2 separate regions of the Homo sapiens genome follow, and region 2 is linked to region 1. Evidence: fine-mapped expression QTL. Tissue or cell type: gastroesophageal junction. Region 1 holds a variant in brackets; the other region holds the start of a gene. All regions are shown on one strand. Distances are from middle to middle.

Evidence for each region. PIP is the estimated chance that this variant, and not a neighbour inherited with it, causes the effect.
Region 2: it holds the start of COG8, and the variant in region 1 is fine-mapped to the expression of COG8 in gastroesophageal junction (GTEx, PIP 0.99).

What each region holds. Positions count from the first base shown.
Region 1 is chr16:69,001,844-69,010,103 of GRCh38, forward strand. The region is part of intron 15 of TANGO6 (transport and golgi organization 6 homolog); the gene reads left to right. It also overlaps the pseudogene RNU6-898P. Among named protein-coding and RNA genes, the nearest start is that of HAS3, 100 kb to the right of the region's middle. The variant T/A (reference allele first, on the strand shown) is at 3,596.
Region 2 is chr16:69,336,045-69,344,044 of GRCh38, forward strand. It overlaps COG8 (component of oligomeric golgi complex 8), which reads right to left and starts at 3,520. Exons shown (of 6, transcript NM_032382.5): 1 at 3,132-3,520; 2 at 461-668. The coding sequence starts at 3,508. NIP7 (nucleolar pre-rRNA processing protein NIP7) reads left to right here and starts at 3,728. Exons shown (of 5, transcript NM_016101.5): 1 at 3,728-3,841; 2 at 3,962-4,048; 3 at 4,150-4,288; 4 at 5,136-5,276; 5 at 5,489-7,062. The coding sequence starts at 3,786. The coding sequence ends at 5,608. It overlaps TMED6 (transmembrane p24 trafficking protein 6), which reads right to left. Exons shown (of 4, transcript NM_144676.4): 4 at 7,206-7,596. The coding sequence ends at 7,363. RefSeq lists silencers at 3,197-3,246, 3,257-3,306 and enhancers at 3,727-3,846, 4,027-4,106.

The DNA.
Region 1 (8,260 bases):
TTTAAATATGAGAAGAAAGAAGTATTGGCCTGTAGTAATAACCACTCACTGTAAGCAACTGCCATCAGCTATTCCTAAAAGTATATGTCCTACCTAGCTGTTATACACCAAGGCTAAAAGTTCTCTCATAATGCAAAATAATTTCTGATACCCCCAAAAGTAAAAAAAAAGATAAAGTAATGTGATGCAAAACAGAGCAGAGCCTTAGATTTTGAGAGGGACCTGTCTACTTACAATTCTTGGAGTTCCATGAGGAAAACAGCTTTTTCTTCCAAAACAGGATCTGTGACATCTTCTATTTTTCTCCCAAGGAGTCCCAGGCTGTCAGAAATTACCATAGGTCCTCTCATGTGAGCATCAAGGGTAGCAAGAAAACGGACAGGAGAAATAATTCAGTTGACTGAGAAGAAAAACAAACCAAAAAAATAAGATCCAAGAAAAGGCATAAAGCCCTTTAATTTATATATATATATAAAATTTGGGTGATATGGTTTGGCTCTGTGCCCCCACCCAAATCTCATCTTGAATTGTAATCCCCATAATCGCCATGTATTAAGGAAAGGACCAGGTAGGAGGTGACTGGATCATAGGGATGTTTTCCCCCATGCTGTTGTTAGGATAGTGAGTGAGTTAAGTGAGTGAGTTCTCTTAAGATCTGATGGTTTTATAAGACAGTTTTCCCTGCTCTTGCTTGCTCTCTCTTTGCCTGCTGTCATGTAAGACATGCCTCTTCCCCTTCCACCATGATTGTAAGTTTCCTGGGGCCTCCCCAGCCTGCAGAGCCATGAGTCAATTAAACCTCTTTTCTTTATAAATTACCCAGTCTCGGCTGTGTAAAATGGACTAATACGTTGGGTATCTGTTTTTAATTAAGCTGATTTTTAACCATAGAGCACTTTTAAAAAAAGTCCTTTTGGGTCAGGTGCGGTGGCTCACACCTGTAATCCCAGCACTTTGGGAGGCTGAGGCGGGCAGATCACCTGAGGTCAGAAGTTCGGGACCAGCCTGGCCAACATGGTAAAACCCTTTGTCTACTAAAAATACAAAAATTAGTTGGGTCTGGTGGCACACACCTATAGTCCCAGCTACTCGGGAGGCTGAGGCACCAGAATCACTTGAACCCGGGAGGTAGAGGTTGCAGTGAGCTGAGATGGTGCCACTACACTCCAGCCTGGGTGACAGAGCAAGACTCCATCTCAAAAAAAAAAAGAAAGTTTTTAAATCTTTTATCATTAAACTTTAGCCAGGACAAGCAGCTGACACCTCTGGCTTTTAAGCCCTTTTTTCCCCCCTCAAAGGTATTTTTCCAGGTAAAACAAAAAAAGCCTTAACGAAGGTTATGATTTAACCATGGATGCACAAGGTGTCTCCAAAGAGATGGCAAGCAGTTTTTATAAGATCTAGAATCACACCTAAGGTAGCTCAGAGAAAAGAAAATTCAAGTCAGGAAATCAGAAGCTGCCCATAGAGGGAAAAAGAATAAATAAATGGCAAAAGTCCCACAACTGTCAAATCAAAAGGAATTCATTCCCTAAGCCAGGAATTTAACCCAGGCCACCATCACAAAAGAGCAAAGCCTTAGCTACTGAGCTACAGCAGAAGGTAAGCACCATATTGTTTTTCCCAGGAGTCTAGAGCAGCCATTTTTGAGCTTGTGAAGAACATACCTTTTCAAGGGAAAAGAAAACAGATTTTAGAATTAAAAGCCAGTATTTCTTTCAGTCTTACTGAAAGCAAACCAATACTTTAAAAAACGTGTTTTAACATAGGGGACCAAAATTTAGATAGACTGTTATAAATTAATTTTCTTTCATTGTAGTTTATTTAATTATATAAAAAAGTTTAATAAGTTATCTTTTATGAACTTTATCATGACTTACATAGACCACCTATGACATGCTTGGACCTTTTGACTTGTCCTATACTTTCTTCTTTCCTAAATAATCAGTCATTCTACTTTAGGACAAGAATTTACCATACAAGATCCTTTCTCACATAAAATTTCTTTTCTTTATAGCCTTCCTTATCAAAAATACATCTTCATATCCATAACTTTCTACTCATCTCTTTCCCCTACTTACTGTTTTTTTTCTTTCTATCTTGTTTCTATTTTCTTCCTAAATCCACATTTTAAACCCCACTTTAAATAACATCTGAATTGGCAAAAAAAAAAAATTTTTTTCAATAGCAGCATATCTTCTTTGGCACATTTTACATACAGAATTATATATGAATTTTTAGTAATCCTAAATTTTAATGAGTTTAAATTAAATGAACTTGAAAAATGCTTGGACTTATTTACTTAATTTATGAGTGCTCTTTTACTTATAAGTCAATTTGTTACCCTGTAAACAATATATAACATAATAAATGTAAATACACGTAAACACAGCTAGACATGTATGCACACACATAAAGATCCAATAGCTTTTATCTTGAAACTCTAGTCATGAGATAGTAATACAAACTCACCGTTTCATAAAAGATAGCTAGATCCAAATTATTTCTTTTCTTTTTTTTTTTTGTTTTTGAGATGGAGTCTCACTCTGTCATCCAGGCTGGAGTGTAATGGTACAATCTCTGCTCACTGCAACCTCCGCCTCCTGGGTTCAAGCAATCCTCCTGCCTCAGCCTCCTGATTAGCTAGGATTATAGACGCTTGCCACCACGCCCGGCTAATTTTTGTATTTTTAGTAGAGATGAGGTTTCAGCATGTTGGTCAGGCTGGTCTCAAACTCCTGACCTTGTGATCCGCCCGCCTCAACCTCCCTAAGTGCTAGGATTACAGGCAAGAGCCACTGTACCCAGCCCCAAATTATTTCTCTGACAAAATCGGGACTTGTCCACATGGCTAAACTTTGTTTGCTAATTTGAATTTGCTCCAGTTGCTTAAAAGGCACCTTAGTAGCAAGTCCTTCAGGACTATTGTCCCCATGTCTAACAAGGATCTTTACTAGACATAGAACTTTTTCTATCTGTCTTTCTATCCGGTTGTCTCCCACTGCAAATTCTCACCTCCTGCATCGAAACATTAAGTCAAGTGACAAGACAAGAAAATGCTGTTACAGAAAATGATAACTTTAGGGTAGAAAACAAGAAAAAGCAAGACCGGGATTCCCCTAGGGTGGGACTCTAACCCACAATTCTAGAGGGAATGCCAATTCCGAACACCCCAGAGCATCTGGCATGGATGACAAACAGTACCAAGTGCTGAAAACCCCAGAGCATCTTGGGAGTGTCCAACAGTGAACCCCAAAGGCATGAGACCTAACACAGTTGGGGGCCACAGTACAACATGACTCTGGCATCCCAGGATCAACACAGTGGGGGACCACTCACAACCAAGTGTCTTGCTTTAACCAATTGCTCAACTATCCAAAGGAAAAACTACAAACGTGACAAAGAAAAAAGGATAAGCATGCAATTTGACAGTAAGAGCAGAAAAGTAAAATGGCCAATTGTTAGAAACTAAAGAGAAAATGTCAGAGAGAAGGGGTGACAGGGTGGGCTACTAAGGAAGTGGCCTTCCAGGTGTGCTCCCATCTGGGGCACCCAGACAATGGGAGGCTGCAGTCAGGCTCCCAAGCCAGAGGTC[T/A]TATGGCCACTTTCCCATCTACCCAAAATAAAGGACAGAGAATCCAAAATCGAAATTTAACAAAAGGTAGCGGCCAGGCACGGTGGCTCATGCCTGTAATCTCAGGAGGCCAATCCCAGGAGGCCAAGGCAGGTGTATCACCTGAGGTCAGAAGTTCAAGACCAGCCTGGCCAACGTGGTGAAACCCCCGTCTCTACTAAAAATACCAAAAATTAGCCAGGCACCTGTAATCCCAGCTACTTGGGAGGCTGAGGGAGGAGAATCACTTGAACCCGGGAAGCAGAGGTTGCAGTGAGCTGAGATTGTGCCATTGTACTCCAGCCTAGGCAACAACAATGAAACTTCATCTCAAAAAAAAAAAAAAAAAGGTAGCAAGTTGAATCCTCATTTTACCCAGCCCCTATTCAAGGTGGAGTCACTCTGGTTTGAATGCCTTTGACATAAGGACCTCCAAGAGTCTGAATCTGCAGTGTTTTTCTTGCCTCTGTTAAGAAACTTTTAAATAATACTAATATTTTTTCAAAAACAGAAACAATGAAAATTTAGAAGGCTTTTACAAATGTTACTCATTAAATGGCCGGCTTTGAAGCAGTAAAAACTGAAATTATATTGTCACCATCGTTTACTGACAAATAAGGAAAGGAAGAGCTGGCAGAAGCGATGCCAGTCAGAAAGCAGTGGGAAAGCCCTGGGTTCTGCTTGGCTGGTGGTGCAGGCAGAACTCAGTTCCTGTAGTGGGCAGATCACCGAAGAATCCAGATCTCCTGCCTCCTCTGTTTGAGGGGAGCAAGGATTGTGAATTGTCTGTGAGATTAGTCCCAAGCCTTTGGTCTCTGAGTTTTTGGGAGGCAGGGCTGTGTTTCTTATCAGATTGTGCTTACACACATAGACTGCTTCTTTTCTAGTATGTGAATATTTTTATATGTTGCTTCTGTTTTTCCAGCTTCACTGAAAAATAGATTCTCCAGTCCTCGTTCTGACCCTTTCATTCGCAAAGTTTCATTTTTTAAAAAACAGACTTCTGGCTGGGTGCGGTGGCTCATGCCTGTAATCCTAGCACTTTGGGAGGCCAAGGAAAGTGGATCACCTGAGGTCAGGAGTTTGAGACCAGCCTGACCAACATGGCAAAACTCCATCTCTACTTAAAAAAAAAAATACAAAAATTAGCTGGGCATGGTGGCACGCGCCTGTAATCCCATCTACTCTGGAGGCTGAGGCAGGAGAATCCCTTGAACCTGGAAGGCGGTGGTTGCAGTGAACTGAGATCGCACCACTGCACTCCAGCCTGGGTAACAGAGCGAGACTCTGTCTCAAAACAAAAATAAAAACAAAAACAAACTTATTGAAATAGAATTCATATACCATATAATTCAACCATTTACAGTGTACACCTCAATGTTGTTGTTGTATGCTCACAGGGTTGTATGCTCACCATTACAATCAATTTAGGACATTTTCATCACCCCAAAAGCAACCTTGTACCCATTCCCAGTCGAGCAATCACTACTGTACTTGCTGCTGTAAGGGTTTACTTAGAGTTGGACATTTCATATAAACGAAATACACCATGTGGGCTTCTTTCACTTAGCATAATGTTTTCTTTTTCTTTTATTTTGAACATGGAACATTTCACGAATTTGCCTGTAATCCTTGCACAGGAGCCATGCTAATCTCTGTATCATTCCAATTTTGGTATATTTGCTGCTGAGGCAAGCACAGTGTTTTCAAAGTTCATCTGTGTTGTAGCATGTATTGGTAATTCATTTCTTTTTATTGCTGAATAATATTCCGTTGTATTTATATGCCACATTTTTTTTTCTTTTTTCTTTTCTTTTTTTTTTTTTTTTTCGAGACTGAGTTTCGCTCTGTCACCCAGGCTGGAGTGCAGTGGCACGATCTCGGCTCACTGCAACCTCTGCCTCCTGGGTTCAAGCAATTCTCCTGCCTCAGCCTCCCCAATAGCTGGGACTACAGGCACGTGCCACCACACCTTGCTAATTTTTTGTATTTTTAGTAGAGACGGGTTTCACTGTGTTAGCCAGTATGATCTCGATCTGACCTCATGATCCATCCGCCTCGGTCTCCCAAAGTGCTGGGATTACAGGAGTGAGCCACTGTGCCCGGCCTGGATATGCCACATTTTTAATCCATTCATCAGTTGATGGATATGTGAATTTTGGGCTATTATGAATAAAACTTCTATGTATATTTGTGTACAAGTTTTTATGTGGAAATGTGTTTTCAGTTCTCTCGAGTCATATGGTAACTCTATGTTTAACTTTTTGAGGAACTGCCAAACTGTTTTCCAAAGTTTTCCATTTTACATTTTCACCAGCAGTGTAGAAGGGTTCCAGTTTCTCCTCACCAGGGCTTATTATTGTCTGCCCTTTTGATTACAGCCCTCCCAGTGGATATGAAATGATATCTCATTATGGTTTTGATTTGTACTTCCCCAGTGATTAATGATGTTGAGCACCTTTTCCTGTGCTTCTTGGACGTTCATATATCTTCTTTGGAGAAATGTTTTTTCAGATCTTTTTTAATTGAGTTGTCTTTCTTTTTTGTGTTGTAAGAGTTCTTTATAGATTCAAGAGACAAGTCCCTTACACTTATATGATTTGCAAATATTTTCTTCCATTTTGTGGGTTGTCTTTTCACTTTTTTTAAAAAAAAGAATAGGCTTTTTCTTTCAGAAAAAATAGACTTTTTTTTTAGAGCAGTTATAGGTTCACATAAAAATTGAGCAGAAAATCGAGAGAGTTTCCATATGCTCCCTCCCCACCACACAGCCTCCTTCACTATCAAAATTCTTTTCACTTTCTTGATGGTGACATTTGAAGCACAAAGGTTTTTAATTTTGATGAAGTCCAAAGTATGCATTTTTTCTTTTGTCACTTTTGCTTTTGGCATCATATGTAAGAAGGCTTTGTCTAACTTAAAGTCACAAAGATTTACTCCTGTTTTCTTGTTTTTTGTACAGCCGAGATCTTGCTATGTTGATCAAAGCCATCACTCCCAGGCTGGTCTTGAACTCTGGGCCTCAAGCAATCCTCCCACTTAAGCCTCCCAAAGGGCTGAGATTACAGGCGTAAGCCACTGTGCCTGGCCTTGTATGTTTTAAGAGTTTTACAATTTTATCTCTTATGCATAAATCTGTGATCCATTTGAAGTTAATTTTTGTTTTGTTTTGTTTTGTTTGTTTGGTTTTTTTTTTGGAGATGGAGTCTCACTCTGTTCCCCAGGCTGGAGTACAGTGTACAGTGGCACGATCTCAGCTGACCACAACCTCTGCCTCCCAGGCTCAACCAATTTTCGTGCCTCAGCCTCCAATGTAGCTGGGATTACAGGCACCTGCCACCATGCCTGACTAATTCTTGTATATTTAATAGAGATGGGGCTTTGCCATGTTGATAAGGCTGGTCTCAAAATCCTGACCTCAGGTGACCTGCCCATCTCAGTCTCCCAAATGCCGGGATTACAGGTGTGAGCCACCGAGCCCGGCTGAAGTTAATTTTGTACATGTGTCAAGAAGGGGTTTTCATGTGGCTATCAAGTTGTTCCAGCCTCATTCTTTCTCCATTGTTTTGGCATTCTTGTTAAAAACCAATTGAACATAAACAGGAGAGTTTATTTCTTTTTTTTTTTTTTTTTTTTTTTTTTGAGACGGAGTCTTGCTCTGTATGCCCAGGCTGGAGTGCAGTGGCGTGATCTCGGCTCACTGAAATCTCCGCCTCACAGGTTCAAGCGATTCTCCTGTCTCAGCCTCCCAAATAGCTGGGATTACAGGCACACGCCACCATGCCCAGCTAATTTTGTATCTTTAGTAGAGACGGGGTTTCTCCATGTTGATAAGGCTGGTCTCGAACTCCTGATCTCAGGTGATCCACCCACTTCGGCCTCCCAAAGTGCTGGGATTACAGGCGTGAGCCACTGCGCCTGGCCCGAGAGTTTATTTCTTGACCCTCAGTTTTATTCTATTGATTTACCTATTATTAGGCCGGTATATACTATCTTGATTATTGTAGATTTGTAGTAAGTTTTAAAATCAGAAGCGTGAGTCCTCCAACTTTTTCACTGTTGTGGATCCCTTCCATTCTTATATGAATTTTAGGATCAGGTCACCAATTTCTGCAACAACAGCAACAACAACAAAAGCAGCTGGCATTTTGGTAGGGATTGTGTTGAATCTGTAGGTCAACTTTGGATATTGCCATTGTAATATTGTCCTTCAATTCATGAACATGGGATGTCTTTCCATTTATTTGTCTTCTTTAATTTCTTTCAATAATGTTTTCAGAGTATATGTTGCACTTCTTTTGTTAAATTTATTCCTATCTTATTCTTTTCAATGCAATTGCAAATGGAATTATTTTCTTATTCAGAATATTCATTGCTAACCTGAATACTTACTTTTGGCATTTGGTGGCAGGAACTCAAGGGCATATTAGGATACATCAGTTGCTTGAAGTGAATTAAATTATTTCATGCATGTACTAAGAGCGAAATGGGTGTCAGTGCTGCTAAGCTGGTGAGGCCACCCCCAAATGACTGTGCGATTGATGACCTGATTCCTCTATGACTGTTATAGAGAAAGACTTTCTCTTGCCAAAGTATCTAGAAAGTTTTCAATCATTCTGTGTATCATCTTATCATTCTATTTGCTAC
Region 2 (8,000 bases), 330 kb after region 1:
ACACTTTCTGGTTTGCTCTCTCCCCAGATCTTTGTGGGCTGGCACCTCCTTCTCATTTAGGTCTCAGCTTAAATGTTACCTCCCTAGAAGAGTCCTTCTTGATCACCCTACCTAAAGAAACCTACCCTAGACTCCCTTACCCCATTCCCTGTTTTTTTCTTCAGACACCACTATCTGAAATGATATCATTTCTTTGTCAATTATCAGACTTCCCATTAGCACGTAAGCTGCATGAGAGCCAGGACCACTTTATTCACACTGTATCCCCAGCATATAGAGCAGTGCTTGGCACATGATTAATATGTATTTTGAATAAATGAATGTTTTCTGTTCAGGCATACCTGGCTGGCAGAAACTGATGTGAAACATGCAAGAGTTTCTACCTAAAGCTTCAGTCCTGACCACAGAATAAATGATTACAAGAACATTACTTTGAGTCCTCTCTGGGCAAGGTGGCTACCTGGATGACAGGGATGGAAGAGTATTTCCTCTCCAGTCGGCGTACGTAGGCTGCAAGCTCCAGGGCCTCTTCATAATAACTGTTCCGGACACAGGTGTCCATGAGCTGAGGAATCTCCAGTATTTCCAAAATTTCTGTGTGCCGGTTTAGGGTCAGGCTATTCATCCGGCGGTTGGAGCTGATCTCCTCGGCTTCCTTCACAAAGTTCCTAGTAATAATCAGAAGAATGTTGATCCTTCACTGCTCTGTACCCAAACCTTAGCTACAGTTACCAAGTACCTGCTATGAACATTGGGCTGGATGATCTATCTGATTTATTCCTCACACCCCACCTATAAGGTAAGTATTATTACAATTGAGGAAATTTTTAATCCCAGAGAGGTTAAGCAACTTGTCCAAAAACATACAATTAATAAATCTAACAGATGGAGATCCAGATATGCCACTTGCTGGCTGTGGCAAGGTACTTGGCCTCTCTGAACCTATTTCCTCATTAGTAAAACGGTATATAGGGCCAGGCGCAGTGGCTCACGCCTGTAATCCCAGCACTTTGGGAGGCTGAGGTGGGCGGATCACTTGAGGCCAGGAGTTCAAGTGAAACCCCATCTCTACTAAAAATACAAAAAATTAGCCAGGCATGGTGGTGCGCGCCTGTAGTCCCAGCTACTCAGGAGGCTGAGGCAGGAGAATCACTTGAACCCAGGAGGTGGAGGTTGCGGTGAGCAGAGATGGCGCCACTGCACTGCAGCCTGGCCAACAAAGCAAGACTCCGTCTCAAAAAAAAAAAAAAAAAAAGTATATAGGACCCTCCTCATAAGGGTGTAAGAACTAAATGAGATGATGTGTGTGAAGCATTTAACATAGAACTTGAAACAGAGCGAATGCGTCAAAGTAAAAATAGTAAAAGAGACACAGTTAAATATTTAACAGTAGCTATCATTATTTTCAAAATGAAGCACTAACTGCCTAGAATCCACAATCTTTCCCCTCAGGTCTTCATCTTCTCCTATGCTAATGTTCAACCATAGTTCCTGCCACAGTCTACTTTCAACACTTCTCCATATTTGCAGAGACCTGCTTTATCAAGTCCCCTATCTATTCTGGAGCATGGAAGGGTACAAAAGCTGCTGTCAAATATCCAAAGGCTCAAAAGAAAAATTAAACTTTAATCATGAAAGGCTGGAAGGCAGAACTAGGGATAATGGAGACAGAATATGACTCACAAAGGACTTTTTTTTTTTTTTTTGAGACGGAGTCTTGCTCTGTCACCAGGCTGGAGTGCAGTGGCACGCATCATCTTGGCTCACTGCAACCTCCGCTTCTCAGGTTCAAGTAATTCTCCTGCCTCAGCCTCCCGAGTAGCTGGGACTACAAGCGCGTGCCACCACGCCCAGCTAATTGTATTTTTAGTAGACATGGGGGTTTCAGCATGTTAGCCAGGATGGCCTCGATCTCTTGACCTCGTGATCCGCCTGCCTTGGCCTCTCAAAGTGCTGGGATTACAGGTGTGAGCCACCGCACCCAGCCTTTTTTTCTTTTTTTAAGAGAGTTTCACTTTGTCACCCAGTCTGGAATGCAGTGGCACAATCACAGCCCACCGCAGCCTCGACCTCCCAAACTGGAGTGCGGTGGCACAATCATGGCTCACTGCAGCCTCAATCTCCCGGGCCCAACTGACCCCCCCACCTCAACCTCCTGTGTACCTGGGACTACAGGCGCACGCCACCACGACCAGCTAATTTTTTATTTTATAGAGACAGGGTTTTGCCATGTTGGCCAGGCTGCTCTCGAACTCCTGGGTTCAAGCCTCAGGCTCCCAAAGTGCTGGGATTACAGGCTGAGCCACCACATCCAGCCATCCAAATGGAGAGACTTTTTGATATCTGATGCCCTCAAATGCGAGGATTTCCTTGTCACCTTCCCGTCAATGGAAGTTTTGAAGCAGATGACCTCCGGTCCACGCTTTCGTATAAAATAAGTATATAAATGTGCACATATATTCAGCTCACACCTATAATGTTAACTGTGTCAGACCCGATAATAAGAGCTTTGCATGAATCCTTTTTCTTTGTGCCCACAACTGCCCTTCGAGGGAGGGACGTGCTTCTGGGTAACCAGTTCTGAATTCGAAACCTCCTAGCTGTGTCCTTGGACGTCACTAATCTCTGTCTTGACTTGCTCATATGTAAAATGGAAATAACAGGGCTGGGCGCAGTGGATTATGCCTGTAATCCCAGCGCTTTGGGAGGCCGAGGCGGACAGATCACGACATCAAAAGATCGAGACCATCCCAGCCAACATGCTGAAACCCCGTCTCTACTAAAAATCCAAAAAAATTAGCTGGGCGTGGTGGCGCGCGCCTATGGTCCCTGCTACTCAGGAGGCTGAGGCAGGAGAATCGCTTGAACCCAGGAGGCAGAGGTAGGTTGCAGCGAGCCGAGATCTCGCCACTGCACTCCAGCCTGGCGACAGGGCGAGACTCCGTCTCAAAAAAGATAAAAAAGGAATAACAGTACCTATCTCGAAGGCTGTTGTGAGGTTTAAATGGATTAATAAAGCGCTCAGCAGAGAACCTGGAACGTGGTAAACGCTTTATGTGTTAGTTATTTCTACCATCGTAAATGTCAGCTTTTACAGTTATAAAACCCCTTTAGCGCCAGGCGCGTCGCACCTGCAGCTCTGCTGGAAGCTGGGCAAACGGTCGAGCAGGCGGCCGAGCGACGCCTCCACGTCGCCAAACAGGCGGTGGATGCGCTCGGTGCACTCGGCGCCGCGGATGAAGGTCTTGTAGTTAGCGAAGGCCAAGTCGCGCGTCTGCTGCAGCAGCTGCGCCCGCTCCTCCGCCAGGCGCTCGGGCTCGCGCCGCAGCCGCTCCAGCCCCGAGCCGCTCAACTCCCGGAGGTAGCGGCCCACATCGGGCCGCTCGCGCCACTGGGCCTCGGGGAAGCGGTCCCGGAACAGCGACGCCAGGAGCCCTTCATCCTCCACCTCGCCGAGAGCCGCTGCTGTGGCCGTGGCTACCGATGGGATAGTCGCCGCGGTCGCCATCTTCCCAGCAACAACGTCACTTCCCTTCCGGACCACAAGGGGCGCTGACTCCGAACTTAGGACAGGAAGAAACAGGCACATTTCCGGTCTCTATGCTTTCTCATCCGGCCGGCTTGCTTTCCCCTGCGGTCGTCCAGACTATTGGGCGCTAGCGAGACGAACTATTGGTACGGGGCTAGAGAGGAAGGCTTTGGGATTGCCGGGGAGCAGCGAGCGACCGACTTCCGTTTCCAGTTACCAAGGCACGAGGATCCGGTGTTCCAACCCAGGGGGAAAAATGCGGCCTTTGACTGAAGAGGAGACCCGTGTCATGTTTGAGAAGATAGCGAAATAGTAGGAGCGCGCGGGGCGGACGCGGGAGTGTGTGGGTGTGGTGGCCAAGGGTGGAGTGGGGGCGCGGTGCCGGAGACCGGTTCGTTCGGGCGCGGTCTCCAGTCCTCTTTTTGCCCTCAGCATTGGGGAGAATCTTCAACTGCTGGTGGACCGGCCCGATGGCACCTACTGTTTCCGTCTGCACAACGACCGGGTGTACTATGTGAGGTGAGGCGGGGCCGGGCAGGCAGCATGGACCCAGGGGAGAGGGGTCCTGGGTCCCACGAGCCTCCTTCATCCGCAACCTTGCTCCCCCTTTACCCTTTTAGTGAGAAGATTATGAAGCTGGCCGCCAATATTTCCGGGGACAAGCTGGTGTCGCTGGGGACCTGCTTTGGAAAATTCACTAAAACCCACAAGTTTCGGTTGCACGTCACAGCTCTGGATTACCTTGCACCTTATGCCAAGGTTTGTGGGGCGGTTTCCAATTCTGCCACGGGCGATGAAGTCAAGGATTAGGCAGATTGTCCGGCAGCTTCTCTCCCACAGAGTCCCTGACAGTGTGCTTGGAGGAGTTTCAGCACATGGAGATGTGTAGAGGTCTTGCAGCTTGAGCATGGTCAGGGCTATGGGATAGGAATGCTATGTGGCTGCGTAGGGTTAGTTTTCTCCAGCGAAGTAGAAGAGCCTAGGGAGACCCAGCTAGAGATCAGAAAGCAAATAAGTGGCAGCAATGAAGACACCGGGGTCCAGAAAAAGAGCTGTTAACCTGGCCATGGAGGATGATCCTTGTAGAGTTGAGAAAATAACTTTTTCTATTTTTTTCTTTTTCTTTCTTGCTCTGTTTTTTCTTTTCATTTCTCTTTCTCTTTCTTCCTGACACAGTTTCACTCTGTCGCCCAGGCTAGAGTGCAGTGGTGCGATCTCACTGCAGCCTCCACTTTCCAGTTTCCAGTGATTCTTGTGCCTCAGTAGCTGGGATTACAGGCATGTGCCACCACACCTGGCTGATTTTTTTGTGTGTTTTTAGTAGAGACAGTGTTTCACTGTGTTGGCCAGGCTGGTCTCGAACTCCTGGCCTCAAGTGATCCACCTGCCTTGGCCTCCCAAAGTGCTGGGATTACAAGCGTGAGCCACTGCACCGGGCAACTTCCTGCATTTCTGTTCAGGAGATAGACAGTTTGAGGAAAACATGAGTCTCTCTGTTTCCCTTAAAATTATTTCAGAAAATTATTCACAGATCCAGCAGCTAGCTTGTCTGCATGGATAGAAATAGTAACGTTTTTATGTCTCTTGGATTTTAATTCTCTTATAGTATAAAGTTTGGATAAAGCCTGGTGCAGAGCAGTCCTTCCTGTATGGGAACCATGTGTTGAAATCTGGTCTGGGTCGAATCACTGAAAATACTTCTCAGTACCAGGGCGTGGTGGTGTACTCCATGGCAGACATCCCTTTGGTGAGTAGAGATGGTAGCTGTTACAGAACTCAAGTACTCTTATTCAAGAAGGGTATGTCTTCAATCTGAGTGCTTGAGAGAATAAATTCTCAGCACGTTTTGAATCCCAGAAAGACCAGAACTGTATTTTTTCCGTCTTTGTTATTTCCAGCCCTCAATATGGGCATATTGAATGACTTCAGTGAGTTAGTGTCTCTTCTTTTGAATCCCAGGGTTTTGGGGTGGCAGCCAAATCTACACAAGACTGCAGAAAAGTAGACCCCATGGCGATTGTGGTATTTCATCAAGCAGACATTGGGGAATATGTGCGGCATGAAGAGACGTTGACTTAAAACGAAGCCATTCCAAGGACAGACGGCTGTATGGAAAGGCCGAGCTTTGTTTCCTGTGTTTGTGTGGACTCCACCATCATGTTGAATTTTGTCAACACTCTGGCCTCTTCAGGGACTTCTTATTTACTGTACTCTCTATCACTGACAAATGCAGGCTGGATTCTTATTATATACAGAGATGGCTCAAAAATGGGGTTTCAGATCTTTGTGACGAAATAGAATACTGTTTCATATTTGAATCAGAGGGCTTCTTGTTCTGAGAAATAGGTTCAAAATCATTGGAACCAGGAACAAGAATAGCTTATTGTTATCTGTGATAACACTGTTTTCTAAACACAAGGATTTTCTTTTTTATTAATATGCAACATAGACATTGCCATAACAGAATAATAAACCACATGTGGGGTTTTAAAAATGAAATTTGGCTAATAGGAGCAATTCAGCTATTTTTCTATACAGTAATTGGTGTGTGGTATAGAAGAAAAACGGGTTCAAACCCCACTTCTGCCACCTACCAGCTATATGGCCTTGAATGAGTCATTCAGCTTTAATAAGGTTCATTTTCTTCTGTTTAAAAAGACACAAAACTTGAAAATCAGCTTTGGCCATCTACCTGAGAATTAGAAAGTCTGATTTTTGGAATTAGAAATCATGATTGTAGGCTGGGCACAGTGGCTCGCGCCTGTAATCCCAGCACTTTGGGAGGCCAAGGCGGACGGATCACTTGAGGTTAGGAGTTTGAGACCAGCCTGGCCAACATGGTGAAACCCCATCTCTACTAAAAAAAAAAAAAAAATTAGGTGTGGTGACACATGGCTGTGGTCCTAGTTACTTGGGAGGCTGAGGCAGGAGAATGGCTTGAACTGGGGAAGCAGAGCTTGCAGTGAGCCAAGATGGTGCCATTGCACTCCAGCCTGGGCGTGACAGAGTGAGACTCCATCTGATTGTAAAGCATCTAGTACAGTGTACAGTGCCTTGGAAATGATAGGTATGGAATAAATGGTAATTATTTTTATATTATATATATTATGTATTCCTGTTATTAAGTGTAGAGTTTTATGAGTATAATTTGATTTTATTACCTTCTTTTTTACAAGCTGTTTTCTCAGTATTTTTCTTGGATGGGATGACGCTAGGCTGGAAAGTTTTTTTCATCACTATGATTTTATAAAACAATTTTTTCTATGAACCTTTACTTACTTGACTGGATTGGACTAAAAGCACTGATCAGAGGCCACGACATAAAAATTCAGTCCCTTTGTCCTTCCCCGTGCCTCCCAAAGTTACTTTAAGATCCTTAGAATATTTCTTTAAATATTTTATAGACAAAAAATTTAAAGACTATCTGTATTGCAAAATTAAACTATTTCTTTAATGAATATATTGCTTATTTTAAGTTCCAAAGGTGAAGTCTTTAAGAATAAAACATTACCAACTCCTGCTTTTATATGTAAGCAAACTTGATTGTGGCCTTTTTCAACTCATCTTCCTTCTAAGGTTTTCTGTTAGCCTCTAAGTAGACTCAGTGAAGGCTAAGGGACTGCTATATGATGAACAGTATTTTGATGCATACATTTAATACATACTTCTTCAGAACTTTTTCACTGTTATGATTTTATTGCCATTTTGCTTTTTTAGATGTGTGCAGCAGACTAAAACATTAATGAGATAATTGATTTTTGTCCCATAACATTACAAAGCTGATTCGACTAAGCCCCAGAAGAAAACAGCCAGGGTGCTATAGTCACCTTAGCTTAGCATCTTGGCTTCTTTGTATCTGTAGTTGTTGGAACATTGAAGAGACGCTTCAAGAAATACAGTTGCAGGATCCCAGAAAGAATAATAACAAGGCTCTGGGCTGTCGACCACCAGTTCACGTAGTTATAGTTTGATTGGATAAGGAAAAAGTCAGCCATTTTCCTCATCCGGGCAAAGTTGTAGTATCGCCACATGTGAAAGATATTGTTCTGCACCTTTTGTGTGCCGTCCTATGAGAGAGACAATTTTAAGGGGGATTCTTCCAAACCCCCATCTAGCCTCACCTGAGCGCTCACTAGCACTAACCTATCTCAAGTCAAATAATTTACCCATATGATTTTAAGATGTACAATACAATGATAGTTGTTAAATGTTGTGTTTGCTATGTATGAAATATGGTCTGGATTTGAGTTTAAAATTTTTGTTTTTGTTTTATGAGACAGGGTCTCACTTGTTTGCCCAGGCAGGAGTACAGTGGCGCAGTCACAGCTCACTGCAGCCTCAACCTTCTGCGCTCAAGTGATCTTCCCACCTCAGCCTCCCTAGTAGCTGGGACTACAGGCACATGCCACTACACCCAGCTAATTTTTTTTTTTTTTTATTGTAGAGACAGGGTTTTGCCATGTTGCCCAGG